Regions from separate parts of the Homo sapiens genome. Here region 2 is linked to region 1. A link means that fine-mapping ties the variant in region 1 to the plasma level of a protein whose gene starts in the linked region. Region 1 holds a variant in brackets. A gene starts in the other region. All regions are shown on their forward strands.

Region 1 (10,734 bases):
TTAACTGTTACTTGCAATAACTTCCTTTAAAGCCTTATTCTTAAAATATTGTGCCACTATTAAAACATACTCCCAATCGGCATTAAAAGATCACTTAAGAACCGCCGTAGCAGAGCCAGGTGCCAATAGCCATGACATACAGAAGCTGTGCACAAAAACCAGACTCCCTGCCTGGACTCATGGTAGAATCACCTGTGCTTAGGCATCATCTTACCCTCCCGGAAGGATTCTGATTCAGCTGGTTTGGAATGGGGCCCAGGAAATGACAGATTTTAAAGCTTCTCAGGTGATAACAATATGCAGTTGCATCTAGAACAGCTGACTGAAGCTCTAATTTACACACGTGACAGGTCAAACAAAACAATTGAGAATAATTGAATTTATTCCACCAGCCAAATACATGGACCATATACTCACATAAAAAATCTAATTAAAAAGAAAAAGACTACATGAGAAAGGTAGAAATTAGACAGCAGGAGAAAAGAATAATTCAAAATTTTCTCTAATAATTGTTTTGTCTATGGTTTCATCATTTCTAATGAGTAAATGTTTTCCTAGTTGTATTTATAAATAAAATCCTTGAAGTACCTTAAAAAATCTGACTCTTACTAAATTCTGGCTCAAATGGTTTGTTTCAACTCAGTTTTGATGAGGACTCGCCAATAAGATATTTATATGACCACTGCATGCATAAAACTAGTACTTGTTGTGTGGTTCTATGTACGGAAAGGAAGCAAAAGCTGTGGGGTAGAGAAAGGACAGAGAGCAAGGAAATCTCTTAGGAGAAAGGAGCAGATGTAGGAGAGTTGAGTCAGGTGAATAATGAAGAGCCTGAGCAGTTCTGTGAATTGCTATGAATTCTAACTCTGAAGTCCTAACAGTCTCTTTATCCAGAGCAATCTTCAATATAGGCACCTCATGAAGCCTGGATCTTAACTTGTTTTCTGCTTTTGGTACATATGTATCCTTACCTGTTGCCCTCTCTACACTCCTAGCTCTATTTCCCACCCCATCTTCCATTACTGGACTTACCCTGAGCTCAGCTAAAGTGTAGAGTGAAAGAAATGTCACTGCTTACTACCCTCTAGGCATGGCATATCTGTTCTGCACACCACTGGAAGATCAATCTCCCTAAAATATTCCTTCTAGTATTCTCCTGCCCCAAATCCTTCACTGGACCCATCACTAACTAGAAAGAAACAGTTCAGCCCCTTAACCTGACATTCAGTGCCTGCCATGACCTGGTCGTAACTTGACTTTCCTGATTTTCTTTCAATACAAGTCTGGAGCTATTCCATGCTCAAGTCCATCAGGTCTCCTAGGCACACCAGTTGCTTTTTATTTTACCTAGGCGCCTTTGTCCTTGTTTCCCATTTCCCACATGCCTAGGATTCCCATTATTCTTTCTATAATTTCCCTGGCTAAGCCAAATTCATGTCTATTCCATCAGATCTTGGGTATATGTGATTGTGTGTATGTATAGATGTATAAGTGAACTAGCACATATGTGCAGACATGAATACGTATATACACACAGGGCCGAATAAATTCTGAGAGGTCAGTGTTTGCAGCACATCACACAAGAAACCTACCCCTTTCCTTTTGTAATTGCTCTGACTTCAATACTGTCTTATAAATTGTCCAGCCTGTGCTCCACTTGGACAAGCTTATCAGAAACTCAGAAACAGGAATACTCATAAGTGCTCTGTCCTTGTCAACACTGAAGATTGAGAGATGAATGATAGGTTTTTAACCCCAAAAAGATCTTGGAAAATTTTAACAGCAGATGCAATGTGAGTGGGCCTCATCCAATCAATTGAAAACCTGAATAAAACATAAAAGCTGAGTAAGAGGGAGCTGGGCCTGCATGACAGAGCAGGGACATTGGCCTTTCCTGATCTTCGGACTTGAAATATTGGCTCTTCTTGCGTCTCTAACCTGATGGCTTCTGGACTGGAACTTACACTATTGCTTTTCTGGGTCTCAAGCCTTTGGACTTGGGCTGGAACTATGCATGGGCTCCCCTGAATCTCCAGCTTGCTTACTGCAAATCTTGGGACTCCTGCTTCTATAATTGCATGAGCCAATCCCATAGAATAAATCTCTTTATTTGTATTTATATGTGTAGACTTACATATTTATATGCATACTTACACAAATTTATATTTGTTTTATGCATTTATAAATGTATTGCCTATATATACATATACTATGTTTTCTTCTAGAGAACACTGAATAATACATACACGTAACTCTGTTTTTGTGCTGTTATTGTTCTAGTACCTGTAAGATCAGACTACTACAGGTGACTGTTGTGCTATCTTTATTCAATTATGATACTCAACTATTCCCAAAATGCCTGACTTCTAGAAGATTCCTGGGGAAGAGAGTTGACAGAATTTAGAAATTATAGAATGACATGGCCTAATGAAAAAAGCAGAATGTCTTTGTATATATGTTTAATTTTTAAGTTGTCTTTTGAATTGGTAAAGTGGTAATCATGGTATACAATGTAGATATTCTTCAGCTTAAAAGCAGTTGATTATTCAATAGTCCTGGTACCAATTATTTGCGTGGTATATTATAGAGACCTGATGAGCTGTGTGTGGTCTATTTCATTCATTCATACTTCTAGTGTTATGTTTCTCCCTCTCTTTTTAACCTTATTGAGACTCTGACCTTCTGAACTTAGTTGCTGCATCTGGTTTCCTCAGACCAATTTGGAGAAATTTAAGTTGAAAACTCAATTTTCACCAAGTCTGCCAATCACTGACTAATGGAGTACATTTGATCTCTGAGTGAAGCTTTAAAAAATCCATCTAAAGCTCTGTGTTACAGTGGCACAGAAGCAATCTGACACTTGTAAGGAAAGATAGCCTTATGTTTCTATTTTAAAAGCCATATTATATTTGTTCTGATTTTATGCTAATTTACATGCATCATCATAAGTGGCTTTGAGTACTGATCTTTTCTTTCATAGTGATGAAAATAATAAAGTCTTAGAGATTTGCATTCTGGTGTGAGGATCTGTATTTCTCTTTTACTTCCTCTGATAATTACCCAGTTTCCTTCAAATCATTCTCTACTAATTTAGAAGACCCTGTCTGTGATAGGGAGTGTCTCTGTCTTAGAAAAAACTGAAAGAGGGCCGGGCGCCGTGGCTCACGCCTGTAATCCCCCCACTTTGGGAGGCTGAGGCAGGAGGATCACGAGGTCAGGAGATCGAGACCATCCTGGCTAACAAGGTGAAACCCTGTCTCTACCAAAAATACAAAAAATTAGCCAGTTGTGGTGGCACATGCTTGTAGTCCCAGCTACTCAGGAGGCTGAGGCAGGAGAATCGCTTGAACCCGGGAAGCGGAGGTTGCAGTGAGCTGAGATCACGCTACTACACTCCAGCCTGGGTGACAGAGTGAGACTCCATCTCAAAAAGAAAAAAAAGAAAAAAAGAGAAAAACTGCCAGAGAATCAGGGAGAGACTGTTTCAAATTTCTACTACAAGCCAGTGATGGGGATAGAATTAATTTCTAAGCCACCTCATTCTACTTTAAAAAGCACTGTACATTTTTACCTCATGGCCTCTTTCTCATCTATTTTCCTCTAGTAAAGCATTTTGTAATCAACACAGAAATATGATGAGAGTTATAGCTAAATGGCTAAAGTTTATGCACACTTGCTTGGTATTATTCTAAGCACTTTACAATTTCTGATCTAATTATTGAAACAACCCTGACTTTACAGAAGAGGAAATAGTCACAGAGTTCAGTAATTTGCCTAGAGTTAAATTGTAGCAAGTGGTAGAGCCAGAATTTGTATCCAAGCATTCCAGATCCAGAGCCTTCTGCTTTAACATATGATTTGTCTCCCACTCTGCTATGCCAACATCACAGGTCAGAGCTTTGGATCATTGGGCTTTAGGAAATCCTTTGCAATTCTGAGTTACTAAATTATTATAGAAAGGATTTGATTTTACGGCTTGTTTTTAAATGTCAGAGAAAACTAAGAGTTTCCAGGCATTATAGGTTTTTCTCTTAAAATATCTTAAGGGTCCATATAATGGCATTTGCTGCATGATGTCAATTCAAGTTAATGCACCTGTTAAATATCTGTGATTTAATGAGAAAACTAGACATGGATGAATTAGTATGTTGCAAGTGTGATACTCAAATGACTTTACTAACAAAATTCTTTAATAAGTTAATTCCTTAAAGATCAGACAAATACCTGCTACTCAAGTCCCTTATATCACCCCCAAGTTACTTGTGACACTTCCTCCCTGGACCATCTGCTCTTGACATCTTCTCTTCCCTATCATCAAAACTTGCTTCCCACAGGGCTTTGCCAGGCTAGTCTGTTAAGCGATTTTAGTCCCTATCACTCACACCCCGCATCCCAACTAATTTGTATTTTAACAAAACTTGTGGGAACAAACTCTTATTCTAAATGAGTAACTCTATTCAGGTTGGTGGAGCTGCTATTTGGGAGCATCTGAGTCTCAATTTAAAGTTCTGAATTAGGTCAGTTTAAATATGGGACTCCCTTAGCAGACACAGACCTAGCAGCCCAATTATTTTTTCCATGGGGAAAAGGGTATGTCCTCCAGGTAGGAGGTGCTATGTCCTCTTCAGACACTAACAGAATTTGAGTGTAATTGCAACCAAGTCATTCATCACAATTACTTTTTATTTTTATCAATGCCTCCATGGTTTATCCTGTCACTATGTTCATGGTGCCTGTATTAGTCTGTTCTCATACTGCTACAAAGAAATACCTGAGACTGGGTAATTTATAAAGAAAGAGGTTTAATTGACTCACAGTTCTGCATGGCTGGGGAGGCCTCAGGAAACTCACAATCATGGTGGAAGGCAAAGGGGAAGCAAGCTTAGGCCTTCTTATGTGACAGCAGGGGAGAGAAGTAGTGTGTACAGAAGGAAAAGTCAAACACTTATAAAACCACCAGGTCTCATGAGAATTCACTCATTATCATGAAAACAGCATGGGGGAAACCACCCCCATAATCCTATCACTTCTCACCAGATTCTTTCCTTCAGGCCTAAGGATTACAATTCAAGATGAGATTTGGGTGGGGACAAAAAGCTAAACCATATCCATGTCTGTGTCTGCATGTATTTCCTCTGTGATGTGGGCCTGTCAGTCTCTCCAAGTCACAAAATGGGTCTCCTTTAACTGAGTCTCTGGCTAGGTCAGTCCATGAGTCTGGGCACAGCAAGGAAGGTGAGACTTGGAGTGAAGGGAGTATTCCTGTTTAACTATAGGGATTCTATTAATTCGTCTCTCAGAATTTTCACAGAGAATCAGGCTGAATTAGAAATGCTTTACAGTGGGAAGTGGTATAATGGAAAAGTATCCACAGAGGGTTCAGGTTCTGCTCTTGGGTTCTCATTCTAACAAAAACCCAAGCTGGGGAACCCAACTTGCTTTTCTCTGTCAAATAAAGGATCTCAAAAGTTTTCTTCAGTTCTAAGCCTTGATGCTTCCCAGTGTTCCATTTGTCCTTTGTTCACAGGGTGGCCTGTGCCAGACTGCCCGGACTCACTCCTGCACCACTTATTAGTGGTGTGACCTGGGGCAAATTTCTCTGTGTCCCTAAGCTGTAGCTGCTTTATTGGAAAAATGGCGTAGCAATAGTACCCATTCCATAGAGTGATGGAGGATTAAATGAGTTAACCTATGTGCCTGGCATGTGGCAGGATGTAAGAGGATGTAAGAGATTTTATTAACATCATTGTTATCATCATCGTAGGGTGCCAATTATAATTAGTTGGTAGTAAGTACATGAATGGCGAGGAACTCTTAGGGATCTTCGGAAAAGAAGGTTAGAAAGAGGATTCCTGAGATGAACATCTATATGTGCCAACACAGTTTTCCCCCCATGGAACCTGATTTTGATTTCTGACTTCCATTTCAAATAATCAGAGGCATTAGAGTTTAATTACATCTAATAATTTAAAGTACATTTTAGTTCATGCTGAAGGCCCCAGATGGAAAGATAAGCACTAAGCAGAATCCCAGTAGAAGAGCTGGATAGAATACTAAAATCAATAGAAATAAAAAATTTCATTTGTGCACAATGTTTTGCCAGTCCCCTGCCAGGCAGGTAGGAGATTTTATAAACCTCTGTTCCTTTATATCTTTCACTGTGTTAGTCACAGCATCTGGACTGAGTTATAATTACATCTTTTTAGGGCTGTTTTCTTCTAGGTCCCATATGGGGGTGGTTCTTCTCTCACCTTCCACATGGACCTTTATGTCCTCTCTTCACTGTTTTCATTTAGACTCTTTTTTTTTTTTTGAGGTGGAGTCTCACTCTGTCGCCTAGGCTGGAGTGCAATGGTGCGATCTCGGCTCACTGCAACCTTCGCCTCCTGGGTTCAAGTGATTTTCCCGCCTCAGCCTCCTGGGTAGCTGGGATTACAGGTACCCACCACCATGCCTGGCTAATTTTTGTATTTTTCTGGAGGTGGGGTTTCGTCATGTTAGCCAGACTGGTCTTGAACTCCTGACCTCAGGTGATCTGCCTGCCTTGGCCTCCCATAGTGTTCGAATTACAGGCGTGAGCCACTGCGCCCGGCCTCATCTAGCCTCTTAACTGATAGGTACATTAGTTAATGTCCAGTGAAGTTGGACATCATTGTGTTACATAAACAGAGTTGGGCTTATAAACGATAGGTGGGAGCATCTTTCAGTTAATCAGATTTGTACAATTGGAATGGTGAATATTGACACAGTTACCTTGAAGAAACTAGGCATACTGAATTGACATCAACTATAAGAAATTTGCCATTAAAAATCTTTATAAGTTCTTGTATATGAAAAGCTTTATAAACTAGAATATCCTATGGAAATAAGATATTGTAGTTAGTTCTACTACTTAAACCTAGTGATTTTTAAATCAATTGGGCATCCTAAAACAATGAATAGTTTTTAATTGCTGGAGGGAGGGAAGGCATCACTACATCACTACTGCAGGTGGGATTTTATAGAATTATAAACCAATCTGCTCACTTAGACATTCTGTCTGCCTAAATTGTCATGTGTTAATTCTCTTTAGTCATATTACATCTGGAGCAGAGCATTGCACTTAACTGTGCAAATCAGAAGGATTTATCTTACATCCTTATTAGTATTTCTCTCTTAATATTACCAGGGACCAATTCCTATTGAATAAACAAACTTGGAAAATGTTCTCCATGTGATTGTTAATACATATATGCATAAAACTCCACATATAAATCTATATAGGATAAAAATCTTAGCTTACATATGTTTAAAAGAAATCAAATTAGAGCTCTCAAGATACCAGCATATCTTATACAGGACGATGATTTTTTACAAAAGGGCATGTTTTAATTTTTGGATTGCATCAATCAAAAATATTCAATACAAAATTTTAGTTTATTAAATTAAAAATTCTAAGTGGTCATTAAAACTGATAACCTAGACCGGGCATGTTGGCTCATGCCTGTAATCCCAGCACTTTGGGAGGCTGAGGCAGGCAGATCATGAGTTCAGGAGTTCGAGACCAGCCTAGCCAACATAATGAAACCCCGTCTCTACTAAAAATACAAAAGTTAGCCTGGCATGGTGGCGTGTGCCTGTAATCCCAGCTACTCGGGAGGCTGAGGCACAAGAATCACTTGAATCCAGGAGGTGGAGGTTGTGATGAGCTGAGATTGCACCACCACTCCAGCCTAGGCAACAGAACGATACTCCATCTCATACAAACAAACCATCATCAACAACAAAAAACTGATAACCTAGTTGGAGTAGATTTGATGAAATGAAATGATGAACTAGCTTTCCTGGTTGAATCAGCAGCAAACATTTGTTAATAACTCTCCAGATTTTACAGGATCAGGCCAAGGAGCAGATGGGATACAGATTTCTAATACAGAATGTCACCGCAAGAGTGCTGCTCCTTTTCCAGATGCTTTTCCTGGGGGCAGTTGGATTGTGAGAGCTGCACTTTGCAGGAGCCTGGTTACTGTTTCTGTGAATAAGATAAAATGGTGTTTATCCTCTGTCGATCAATACTGTCTT[G/T]TTTGAACTTATTGAGTCATTTTAGAGACACATAAGGTAATGAAAACCATTGTGCAATAGTACCCACAGTACTACTCAGCTTTCTAAGGGATGACAATTTTTAAAAGACAGTTACTGAAACAGATTTTTAACATCAACTGCCTCCATGATGAAATGAGCATGCACTGTGTCAGGGTGTCCCATGGGTTTGGGTGAAAAGGTGTTGGGGTTTTATAACTAAGAGTTTTCTTCAGCAATAATCTCTAAAATAAAAATATACTCTGTGTGTGTGCTTTAATACTAAAAAAATTTACAGACTGTCTTTCTCTGAATAAATGGAATAGTGCTACTATTTGTGATTAATCAAAATTTTTTATGTACAGTTTGTGATTTCAACTTTATTAGTATTGTTTTGAAAAACAAGGCCTAATAGGTATACTTGGGCAATTTTAGAAAATTTTTCTGGAGGTTGTTACAAATAGGAAAATGAAAAGGGAAGTGGGGTTTTTGCTGAATTCTTAAGTACCGGGGACCACATTTCTCTCCTTTGCTTTATCATCTAATTTAAACTTCACAAAATACTATGGGTCAGATCTTACCCCCATTTCACATTTGAGGAATCTGAGATTCAGTGGAGTCAAACAATATGCCCAAGGTCACAAACCTAGGGAGTTTTACAATAGGCGTTTCCACTTAGCTGTGTCGAGGCACAAAGCCTAGTGTTCTTTCCGTAATTAATTTTAAAAGTTTCTCAGATAGGCATAGTCCTATTTGGTGGAAGACTAGACTCTAAAGTCCTTTAGATTTTTCAACTGTGATTATTTCAATGGATTCTGATTGTTCTGAATGCTGGACATGGGCTATAAAAGCGATTTGGTCTTTCTTGTTCTGTATTCTGAGAAATGCCAATTTTGAGAGATATTGATAGATGTTCCTGAAAGAAGATGTTCTGTTGTAAATTAAGCCCAGGAAACAAAACGTTGCCTACTCTCTTAGATAGTTGTGATAAATGACAATATTTGCATGTGTCATGAGTCCCCAGTGCTCGAGCGTATGATATAATGGTTACGTGCTTGGGCTCTGGATCAGACTACCAGACAAAGGAGCCTGGCTCTGCCACTTGCTAACTGAGTAGCTGAGCCTGTTAGGTAATTTGTCTGTGCCTCCATTTTCCCATTTATAAACTGTTATAATAGTATCACACCATAGAGTTGTTCCAAGAATAACATGAGATAATGCATGGAGAGAACTTAGAAGTAGACCCGATAATATAGTGCTTCACAGATGCTTGTTATCATTATTACTCAAAACACTCATGTGGTAACAAAACCTGCTATAACTTTTCTAACACTGTTTCCTCAACTTACTTGACAATGGAGTTGCTTTTCTTTTGAGCCACATTTATTAACATCCACTGAATATAGTGTAGGAAATGTTGATATTTGAAATGACATAAAACCACCTTGGCATTAGTGCAGTAGAAAATAAGAACAAAGTATTTATAGTGTTTTAATATCCATTATGTCATTTTATAATGTTTGCCCACAACAATATTTCTTTTCCTTGCCAGCTGTCTTCTTTTTTCCCTTGAAATCGATAAATAGTAAAATAGAACAGTAAAATGTTAAGAGTTGTCTGAAATGGGCAGAGTCAATGTTATTCCAGAAAGTATGAACCTTATAAGTCATTTGTCTCTTTCTCTGTATTTAGCAGGGCAAAACCTTACTGCTTTGACAAATAAGTGATATCACTGTCATTTCCAGACCTGTGCTCCCATTGCATGCTCCATAGCACACGTTATAAAGAAAATTTCAGAGCAGACCAACACATTTTTTGATGCTCCTAAACTATAACTAGAGCTGAATTTGCCAAAATACGATCTATAAAACACTAATCCTGCACAATGTGCAAATAATGCTGTGTTCTTCATCTTCTTGGAGATATACAATACATATCTGAAAAGTCCTATAGTAAATAAAATTGTTTAGTTTGGAATCCTTTCTTCTTGGAATTTACATAGGTAATCATGACAAAAAGTCAGAGAGTTTAGGGGGTTTCTGGTAAAAATGGGATATTTTTGGTAAATGTCCAGATTGATTTCTTTCTTTAGCTAAAATACCATTATAATGTTTTTGGAGTACACAAAAAAAATATGTGAAAATATATCCACCTCAGCACAGTTGCCCAAATTGTGGAAACAATATAATAATTAGCCATTCCAAGGTTCAGATTTAACACACTGAAAACCAGTCATTTTCCATAATATTTTTTTGGTCAGAATCAAAAGTGAATAGTTTAAACATTCCTTTGGTTAGCAAGATAATGGCAGGCGGAATCGCAAGAGTTGTACCAAGACTTTCTTTTTTATGGTGGTAGTAGCTCTGGAGATAATTGAATATATGAAGTCTAAAGTATGATAGGAATTATGACCCACACACAGAACTCAAAATCTGCTGGTGATGTTAATACTATTTCTTTTGTTAATTATATTTTTGTTTCTCAGGGTCCTAGGATTGGGACAGGCACTCAACCACAACTCTCCCTGCTGTCTGGTTAGAGCTAAATAAACTTCTCACAACATTGGCTCCACTCTTGAACCCTCCGTGGTAAGTCTACAGAAATTTATTAAATCCTGGCAGCTATCTCATTTAGAGATTATATAATAATTCCAATATATTCTTTTGTTTTCTGGTT
Region 2 (10,734 bases), not on the chromosome of region 1:
AATTTGGTTTCTTCAAAATTATTTAGTTATATGCCATATTCATTAAAGTCTAATGATGAGGGAAGGTTTTTTATTAGTTTAATTTAACACTTTTCTCAAAAATGTTATTTGACAAAAACTGAAATTTGGGTGTTAAAAAGTTTTTGACTCCGGAAAATTATTTTAAATGAATGTTTCTGTGATTCTTCTGTGTTGGAATGAAAATTACCAATAAACCAGCAACCAAAAATTCACCAGTAAAATTTACAGAAGAACTAGTTCTCTTTCCTCCTGGCAAAATATATCTCTCCTATTTGTTTTGATTTATTATTCTCATTAGTACTGATTAAAATTGAAGAAAATACAGCCCTATTTCTAGTATGCATGAGTATAATAAACGTGTTGTTTAGGCACACATGCATATCTAACCAGCATTCACCTAGTATTTCCTAGATGTAACTCTACTTCCAGAAACAGCATGACTTTTTAGTAAATATAGTGAAGTATGATATAGTAATGCAGTAACTTAAAGAAAAAAAAAGAAGAAAAAGAAAAAGCCCTTAATCGAAGCGTGCTTCCTGTAGCGGAAGAAGAAATTCTGCCTTCTATTGCTTTGTGGAATAGCTAAGGGTCTGTAATCTAACCCTTCCTCACATAATAAAGTAAAAACATCCAGTCCCTGAAAAGCATAATAAAGAAGTTTTACTGTGTGATTTCTATGCTATTCCTTTGAACATTATAATTGTCATTATTTTATGCCACACCACATGCTCTGTTGCTGAAAGTCTTTTCTTCTTGACGGACCCTCACAGCATGATTCTTTGATCTCCATTTTGAAGGGGGAGAAGCAGAAGCCTTGAAGAGAGTTTTTATTACCAATCATCTCTAAGTGTGTTATTAGAATGAGAGAAAACGATCTTAATAGCAGCCATTGGCATGCCAGCCTTGGAAGGCATTAATATTTACTTAGAGCTAGAGAAACAATGAAAGCTTTATGACAAGAACAAGCAAATCTGCAGGGCAGCAGCCGTGTGTGTGTGTGTGTGTGTGTGTGTGTGTGTGTGTGTGTGTGTTCGCGCGCGCGCGCGCGCGTGCGTGCCAAAAGGGACATTTTTAAAGGTCAAATTCCCATTTATAAAGCAAAGCTGAATCCTTCCATCTCCAGACAGTGGCTTTACACTTGTCCACTTGGTGGCGCAGTCACTTTAGTAACTGCGGGCTCTTAATTTCCCTTAAACAGTATTTTCTGTTCTGAGGATAATACAGAGGCTTGTCAACCAATGCACAAAACGTAATTGCTACGTAAAATTAGATAAAATCAATGGAATGGGAACAGGCATGTTATCTAAAGAGTCCTCCATGTTTTGATATTTTTCAAATAGTAGTAACAACTATGTCAGATAGCTCACTAGCTTTCCAAGCCTTGCCCAACCCCACTCCAAATTTAAGTAAATTTCCCACAATCATACATAAAATAGCACCTCACTATATTCTCGGACTGTGCTTTCCTGGGCCTCCACTTTGGAAAAAGAATTGGTTCAACTGGCAAACAGTTGAACCAATTGAATAATAAACCGTTTTCAAAGGATAGAAAATGAGATGCCAGAGTAAAGGAAGCGGGGTAACGGGGAGAATCTGTTCACAGGAATTTTGGCCCACCCTCACATCTAACAGGGGCCTCAAATTTAACTTATAAAAAAATCAAATGATATATACACTCCTCACAAAGTAGCTGCCCTGTTGAAGGAAGACACCCATGCCTCACCCAGCTTTATAACTGCATGCTGTTTCTGAATCACACTAACTGGACATAGTGGATTCATGTTTTGTAAGTTGTGTAATCCTATAATACTGCATTCCAATTTTCTCCACATTAATTTTTTACTCTAAACAGTTAAAATATATAAAGCAAAAACACCTTATTCACCTATTGTGGATACTAGATAAATTATTTTGTGACATTTATGCCTATGAGAACACAATGTCACTGGTAACTTCATATCACTTCTCAAATATTAAAGTGAAAGAATGACATCACTTTTACCCATCTGTTATTTAAAAGAAAATGATGCCATCTTCAGTCTCAATAGGTAACGCAGCAGAAAAGAGTTTCCTTTTCTGAAATCATGAGGGCTTCTAAGTGTCGAAATTGTTTAATCATCTTCCATCATTGATAATTTCAGAAAAAAAAGCTACAACAACGTGAAGACCATAGTTGAGAAGGCTACTTTGAATAAATGTGTAAGAGAAACAAATTACTGTTCTTCGTTGAATTAATCCCAATCAATTCCAGCCATGCAAAATGTAGCAAGTTGACATTTACCCTGTTTTGTTATAACCACCGTAAGAAATTTTGTTCTGGGTGGTTCCATTTACTTGTCCTTTTAAACATTTTTTTCTACTGCCACAGTAATATTAGTCTGAAGTCTTACCCAAAAATATCTCCAAGCAACTGCTGGGTCACATGAGTGGTCCATGTCCCCAGAACTCCAAAATGTGATTATCAGAGCTGAGTACAGAGAAATAAAAGCTGTCACGGTGAATGACCTTTTGTTGTACTTGCGAGATGGGGAGGTGTATAAATTTCATAAATGTGTTTGAAATACTCTGGCTTTGTATCACAATGGGTTATCTGAGGTTTGATTGTTTTGCACTTTTCATTAGAATCAGAATGTGAAATTTCAGGTTGATTTCCTTCATGCCATCAACCCAAAGTCTCCACAACCCTGGCAGAATTTCTATTCTTAGTTTCACGTGACCAGCTACATGATGCAGTGTGAGGAATCAAGGTTCACCTAGCGAGTCATACAGCAAAAGAGGACACATTGCAAAATGTATTGCAATAAAAACTCAACTAGTTGATAATAAAATAGCATCAGCTGTCCTCCAAAGAAAGTTGATTGATTTTTTTTTTTAATTTAAAGCTGAACAAAAGAGAATGATCAAGGTTCATGGAAAAGGTGACACTGCAAATTCATTTTCATTATCTGTGTCCTATCCCTAAGTTACTCGGTACACACATAGGATGGGAATACTCACTTGAATACCATGTAATTCACATAAGGCATGAGGCACTTTTCCAGTTCATAACTTAGAAGTCACCAAGCCTTCTATGTCTCCCAAAGTTTCTACATTTTAAAGGGTTGCATAGGTGATCCATCTGCTTTGGGGCGCCCCTTTGCATCCTCTCTGAGACCTCCACTTGGCCAACTATTTTGGGCCCATTTTGCATCAATTCAACCCAACAGCATTATGGAGGCTGATATGCATCCAGGGGAATGTAAGTTCCTAGGGACAGGAACTTTGTCTGGCTCACTGCTTTGTCCTCAGCATGTAGTACACAGTGTAGCTCATGGAGACTCCTAATTAGCTCTAGTTAATTAGCTAGCATGCGACAAAGGGAATTAAGAAGTAAGGAAAGCTGTATACAAATGAAATAAATAATCACTTGAGCATTGGAGGTCTAGCAATGCTGAGACACTAACTCTATAAATCTGTCAAGGGTCTGAAATTTCCTTGGTTGTAATAACCTATTTGGGTTAAAGTGTTTTCAAGAGACCACTCATAGGCAAATTTTGGTGGACAAAGTTAATATCGGCCCAAGAAGGGGCATCTTCCAAGAGCAGAAACTTTTAAATGAGTCCAAAATAGTAAATAATGATGCAGAATTTTAAGCCCCTCTACTCTCAGTCAACTTCCCTTCCCATGACTTCCCTGGCATTTGTTGAGCTCATTTGGGTTCCAGGCAAAACCTGAGACAAAGTCAAGGCTTGAAAGGGTTGGGGAGAGGCCGTATCCTTCACCCCATTGCCATTTTCAGTCTTCTACATGGATTTGTGGGTGAATCAGTGCTGCCTACCAGAGACCACCTTGGCCAGGATAATTTTATTTCTCCTAATTTAAATATGGAAAACTGATTTTGAGTGATTTTGTTGTAGACTAAAGAAGAAATCAGGGAGGAAGGCTAATTCTCTCCCCCTGCATATTTTCTGCCTTTTTGTCTTTATCACCATCAATGAGTACCCACAATACCGATTGCCTTTACTAACAGCCATAATGTTAGATGGATGAGACTGAGTGTAGTGTAGTGAAGGCACTCCTCTCTTGCTCCAGCAAATAAACCATTTTTGTAACTGCTATAAAAAAAAACCCTTTGAAATGATTTTATTTCTTGTTTTTATTACAAACAGAAAACATAAACCATGTCACCCACCATCTTGTGCTTTGAAATATGAAAGTCAAAGGAAAACTAATTTGGGAAGAGAGATGAAGTGCTTTGAAGGAGAGATGAAACAGCAAAGTTGAAAGATTAATGCTGCATAGACAAATTGAAATCTAAAGTGAAAGTTTAGACAACAGTAATCAAAATGAATGATAACACGAAAAGCCAGCAGGAAGAAAACATTTGAGCCAACAATCCAGTCTGGTTCATCCGGATAAGATGGTTATCTGGCATTTAATGCTGTTTCCTACACCATGAACATAAGCATTTACTGTCATACTAAGAAAAAGAAAAGTCATCCGAATTTATCGCTATTTTTACATGTAGTTAAATTAATTGTTGTCATATTTCCAAGTGAAGTAACATAGGTTTGGCTTTTGCAGTCAGTTCCTCAAGATTCACAGGCTTGGAATATTTTTTAACAATTTAAAGGCCCAAGATTTCTTACAGCCCCAAGAACTTTTCCCTCTCTACTAAGCACAAATCTGAACAAATAATTACACACCACCAACGTAAAACTAGGAGATCTTATTTTGGTACGGTCTTTGTGTAATTTTAAAACATGATTTTAAAAAATAAATTTTCTTACCTGGAAAATGCTGCAATATTATCAGCCAAAGTTTCTTCATCATTTGCCCCAGACCTGTAATAGTCATATATAGACTTTGGAAGTACTGATTTAGCATGTTGTTCATAATCATTGATACAAATTAGCCGGGGGAGCATTTTCACAGGTTATTGCTATCCCAGATGGAGTTCGTTGTTTTTTTTTTTTTAATGTATTGCTTTCTACATCCTCACTGTTCTGTTATTTGTCAATTATTAATAGACTTTTGCCAAAGTTCAGATTTAGTTCTCTGTTGCTTACATCAAGTGAGCAAACATTATATGCTTAGCCTTTGAAATTTCATTTGTAGGCTATCTGCCAAAGAACACCGAAGTCACTATCTGCCAAAGAACACCAAAGTTGAGGTTGGGAAGGCAGCAGAAGGTGATTAGGTGTCTATCACATTAAAAAGGGGAAAGGAATAAGTAAAAAATTAAAGACTTAGAGGAATACCTGTATGAAACCACTCTTGGTTCAGTTTTGCCTAAGGCTGCTTATTGCACATGGTCTGTGCCTGTGCTCTTTGCTTGATACCCAGAATAGGCTGCCCACTCATTTTCTTTCCACATTTGGATCATGCACAAATCATGTAAACAAGAGCTTATGAACTGAACGGGGCATCCATGAAATATGGGGCATCCGTGAAATTCAGGGCTTCTGCACAATATAAAATTTAGCTGATTACAAACATAGACATTTGGCTTTAACATGGAACATTAAGGCCAAATTGACAGCTAATTGTTTTATTCATTCTGTATATTTGAGGTTTACAACATGATATTATGAGATACATATACACAGAAAAATGGTTACAGTAGGGAGGCCAATATAATATATGTATCATCTCACCCGTAATTACTTTTTTGTGTGTATGACAAGAACAGCTAAAATCAACTTATTTAACAAAAATTCCTAATATGATACAATTTTATTAACTTTAGTCCTCATTTTGCACGTTTGCTCTCTAGACCAGGGGTCCCAAACTCCCCAGCATGGACTGGTACTGGTCCGTGGCCTGTTAGGAACCAAGCTGCACAGCAGGAGGTGAGCAGCCGGTGAGCAAGCTTTACAGACTGAGCTCCGCCTCCTATTGTGAACTGCACATGCGAGGGATCTAGGTTGCGCCACTCCTTATGAGAATCTAATGCCTGATGATCTGAGGTGGAACAGTTTCATTCCAAAACCATCCACCTACCCCCACTGCCCATGGAAAAATTGTATTCCACAAAACTTGTCCCTGGTGCCGAAAAGGTTAGGGACCCTGTTGTAGATTTATGTATCCTACGTGTCTACTATTTTGTATCCTTTGACCTATATCACCCCTTTTCCTCTTCCCTGCTTCCCACTAGTGGTATTCACTGTTTCATTCTCTAGCTCTGTGCATTTGAAGTCTTTTTTAAAACAAAATCCCACCTATAAGTGAAATAATGCAATAATTTCCCTTTTGTGCCTGGCTTATTTCACTTAGCATAATGTTCTCTGGGTTCTACTGCAAATGACAGGATTCCCTTCTCTTATAAGGCTGAATAATATTTCATTGTGTGTATATCTATACATTTCCCTTATCCATTTGTCTCTTAATGGGCATTTAGGTTTACCATTAATTCTTTTTTTTTTTCTTTTTGAGATGGAGTCTTTCTCTGTCTCCCAGGCTGGAGTGCAGTGGTGTGATCTCGGCTCATTGCAGCCTCTACCTCCCAGGTTCAAGAGATTATTCTGCCTCAGCCTCCCAAGTAACTGGGACTACAGGCATGTCCACCACGCCTGGCTAATTTTTGTATTTTTATTTAGTAAAGATGGGGTTTCACTATATTGGCCAGGCTGGTCTCAAACTCCTGACCTCAAGTGATCCAACCACCTCGGCCTCCCAGAGTGCTGGGATTGCAGGTGTGAGCCACTGCACATGGCCTACCACTAATTCTTAGAGTCTTATCTTGCCCTGGAGAGGGTATAGGGAAGTGCTATTCCAAAAGACCTGTGGTCTCAGTCTATAATTTCACTCAATCATGGAACACCTGGGGAAGATTCACATTAGTAGGATATGCTTGAGAAAGCAATGATTTTAACTACAGTTAGACCTGAGTTTCAATCTAGGAGCCGCCACTTAAAGCTGCTTGCCAGTTGTTCACTATCTACATTCCAACCACCTACACCTGTAGGAGAACTTGCTCTTGAACTTGGAGCCTGCTTTTTTCATAAACATAGCATGCCAAATAGTATAGTTCCATACCCTGTGGAACAGCCCTCAATCACAAGCCCAAGAAAGTTCATTCTTCTGGTGGGATTACTCCTAGGATTATGTTCTACATTGCAGGTTTCAGTTATCCACAGTGTGAGCTGGTTGATAATCTATGCTGTGTTGGCTATGTTCCTTTTTTGTTTGTTTTTTGTTTTGAGATGGAGTCTCACGCCGTCACCAGACTGGAGTGAAGTGGCGCAATCTCGGCTCACTGCAACCTCCGCCTCCCAGGTTCAAGCAATTCTCCTGCCTCAGCCTCCCGAGTAGCTGGGATTACAGGCTCATGCCACCACACCCAGCTGATTTTTGTGTTTTTAGTAGAGATGGGGTTTCACCATGTTGGCCAGGATGGTCTTGATCTCTTGACCTCGTGATCCGCCCAACTCAGCCTCCCAAAGTGCTGGGATTACAGGCATGAGCCACCGTGCCCGGCCTGGCTGCCTTCCCTTCTAATCAGACTTCCCTACTCCTCATTGGTGCTCCCTTCACCTCCCAAATAAACTCCTTGCATTTGAATGCTTGCCTCTCAGTCTCCTTTTGGTGAAACTCAAACCAAGACAAAGAGAAATATTCATCCCTACCCTGAGGAGTGACTGTGAGGACAAAGGATATATCATCGCTTAAACACCTGGCATATAGTAGGCACAGTTGACCTTTGAACAAAAAAAAGGGTCCACTTATATGTAGATTTTCTTTAGATTCTTCCACCCCTGAGACAGCAAAACCAACTTCTCCTCTTCCTCCTGCTCCTTATTCTACACAATGTGAAGATGACAAGGATGAAGAGTTTTGATGTACCACTTACACTTTATGAATAGTAAATATATTTTCCCTTCCTTATGATTTTCTTAATAACATTTTCTTTTTTCTAGCTTGCTTTATTGTAAGAATACAGTATATAACACATGTAACATATAAAATATGTGTAAGTTGATTTTGTTATTGGTAAGGCTTCCAGTCAACAGTAGGCTACTAGTTGTTAAGTTTTGGGGGAGTCGAAAGTTTTACACGGTGGGTCGGTACCTCTAACCCCCATATTGTTCAATGATAAACTGTATTTCATTAATATTACCCACCCTCATCTTCTCAATATACTTTACCAACACATTTTTCCAAAAGACTTTTGTTTAATGTCAATTATATAAGGACAATTCCCTAATGTACGAGAGATTGGACAAAGGGATTCTTGAGCTTCTGGAAGGCCATTGCCATTTTTCTTCAAGTAAGTTAATCCCTTTGAGTATTTCTTTGCTAGATTTGCAATTAGTCCAGTTTATTTTCTACACCCCCAAGAGAAGTGTCTTTCATAACTAATGTATATTTATATTATCAGATCTTTTTGAAAATTGCCTTATCCCATGCTTCATGAGGCTTTATATGGTAGAAAGAATAGGGTGTAAAATCATATCTTACAGTGGGTAAATACCCTTTGAGTTTATTTTGGAGAAGGAAAATCGTCTAAGATGAAGAAGAATACTAAGGGGTTCAGTATGTAATCTGTGACTTAGTTTTGACCTGTGGCCACAGAGTGAACACAAAGCACGGTCACCTGTTATATGAAATTCCCATGCTGTGGGTCACCAAAAGGAGCAGGAGAGAGGATATGGATCAAATCTATTTTTACTACTGACAAAGCAACTAGAAACCAAAGATGCAGGCTCCATAGCAGCCTATTAGGCAAACTGGGAATGAAACCAGAACCAAAAATATAAGCCATTAGGTCTTTCCCAGCTGTAATGATATAGTATATAAAAAATAAAGGGTTTTAATTTAATCGAAGGGTCATATGCTGTTAAAATTGACATAGAATTTTATAGTACATAGGTTTATTCTCAAAGTTCACAAATGCTTACTTTTTGCATCAATGTAGTGACAGATGAAATGACATATTAAAATCGCTATTAGGATGTGAAAAATCTGCCAATAAGATAAGCAAGTTCTAAATAATTCAGTTTCATAGTTAACAAAATTATTATGAAAATGTGGTCAAAGGGATCTTAATTATGGCTTATAACTCATTCAAAATGTAAAGATTAAAGCATGACCTTTTATCTGCATATTTATGTGCAAATTTAGCATTTATTAAAATAATTAGCATCCTGCAACTAATGTGATTAGAATGAAGAGGCAATCTAATATTGTTAATCAGGTCAAGTCCCGGTGAAACTAAAGAAGACACATAAGGGCCATTGGTTCTTAAAGTGTGACTTTGAACCAGCAGCATCAGCATCACCTAGGAAGTCATTAGAAATGCAAGTTCCAGGCGTCATCCTAGTCCTACTGAATCAGAAACTCTACAGCTATTTGTGCTGTAACAAGCCTTCCAGGTGATTTGATGCACAACATTGTTTGAGGACCATGGTTTAGGCGAGATGGAATGTAAAGGGGGACTTTTTTCTTAAGAGGCTTATTCTTTTTTATAATTTCAACTTTTATATTAGATACCAAGGCACATATGCAGCTTTGTTACCTGGGGATATGGAATGACGCTGAGGTTTGGGGTACAAATCCTGTCACCTAGGTAGTGATCACAGTACTCAATAGGTAGTTTTTCAATCCATGCTCCCTTCCCTCCCTCCCCACTGTAGTAGCCTGCAGTGTCTGTTGTTCTCATATTTATGTCCATGTGTGCTCAATGTTTAGCTTCCACTTCTAAGTAAGAACATGCAGTATTTGGTTTTCTACTCTTGCATTAACTCACTTAGGATTATGGCCTCCAACCATCTCCATGTTGCTGCAAAGGACATTATTCCATTCTTTTTTATGGCTGTACAGCATTCCATGGTATATATGTACCACATTTTCTTTATCCAATCTACCACTGAAGAGCACCTGGATTGATTCCATGTATTTGCTATTGTGAATACTGCATCAGTGAACATATGGGTGTATGTGTCCTTTTGGTAGAATGATTTATTTTCCCTTGGGTATATGCCAGTAATGGTATTGCTGAGTCGAATGGTAGCTCTATTTTAAGTTCTCTGAGAAATCTCCAGACTGCTTTCCACAGTGGCTGTACTAATTTACATTCCCACCAACAATGTATAAACATTCTCTTTTCTTCACAGACTGTCCAACATCTGTTGTTTTTTTTGACCTTTTACTAATAGCCATTCTGACTGGTGTAAAATGGTATCTCATTGTGATTTTGATTTGCATTTTTCTGATGATTAGAGATGCTGAGAATTTTTTTATGTTTCTTGGCTGCTTGTCTGTCTTCTTTTGAGGAGTATCTGCTCATATACTTTGCCCATTTTTTAATGAGGTTATTTGTTTCTTGCTTGTTGATTTCTTTATGTTCCCTATAGATTCTAGATATTAAGCCTTTATTGGACGCATAATTTGCAAATATCTTCTCCCATTCTGTAGGTTGTCTATTTACCCTGTTAATAGCTTCTTTTGCTGTGCAGAACCTTTTTAGTTTAATTATGTCCCACTTTTCCATTTTTGTTTTTATTGAAATTGCTTTTGGGAACTTAGCCAAAAATTTCTTGCCAGGGCCAATGTCAAGAAGAGTGTTTCCTAGGTTGTCTTCTAGTAATTTTATAGTTTGAAGTCTTACATTTAAATCTGTGATCCATGTTTAGTTAATTTTTGTATATGGTGAAAGGGGTCCAGCTTCAGTCTTTGGCATATGGCTGGCCAGCTATCCCAGGACAATTTATTGAATAGAGAGTCCTTTCCCCA

Which allele goes with the higher level. Alleles are on the strand shown, and positions count from the first base shown. The strength of an association depends on the size of the effect and on how common the allele is.
For the plasma level of the protein whose gene starts at base 4,963 in region 2, T is the high allele of the variant in region 1 and G is the other (weak association).

What was found. PIP is the chance, under the fine-mapping model, that this variant and not a neighbour inherited with it causes the effect. Protein levels are from antibody-based Olink assays in UK Biobank. Linkage for the fine-mapping came from a reference panel and not from the study's own genotypes, which makes the PIPs less certain.
Region 2: HAO1 starts here. The variant in region 1 is fine-mapped to the plasma level of the HAO1 protein (UK Biobank, PIP above 0.99).

Annotation. Positions count from the first base shown.
Region 1 is chr10:50,874,695-50,885,428 of GRCh38, forward strand. All of the region lies in intron 1 of A1CF (APOBEC1 complementation factor), which reads right to left. Among named protein-coding and RNA genes, the nearest start is that of A1CF, 5.6 kb to the right of the region's middle. The variant G/T (reference allele first, on the strand shown) is at 8,062.
Region 2 is chr20:7,935,496-7,946,229 of GRCh38, forward strand. HAO1 (hydroxyacid oxidase 1) reads right to left here and starts at 4,963. Exons shown (of 8, transcript NM_017545.3): 1 at 4,791-4,963. The coding sequence starts at 4,927.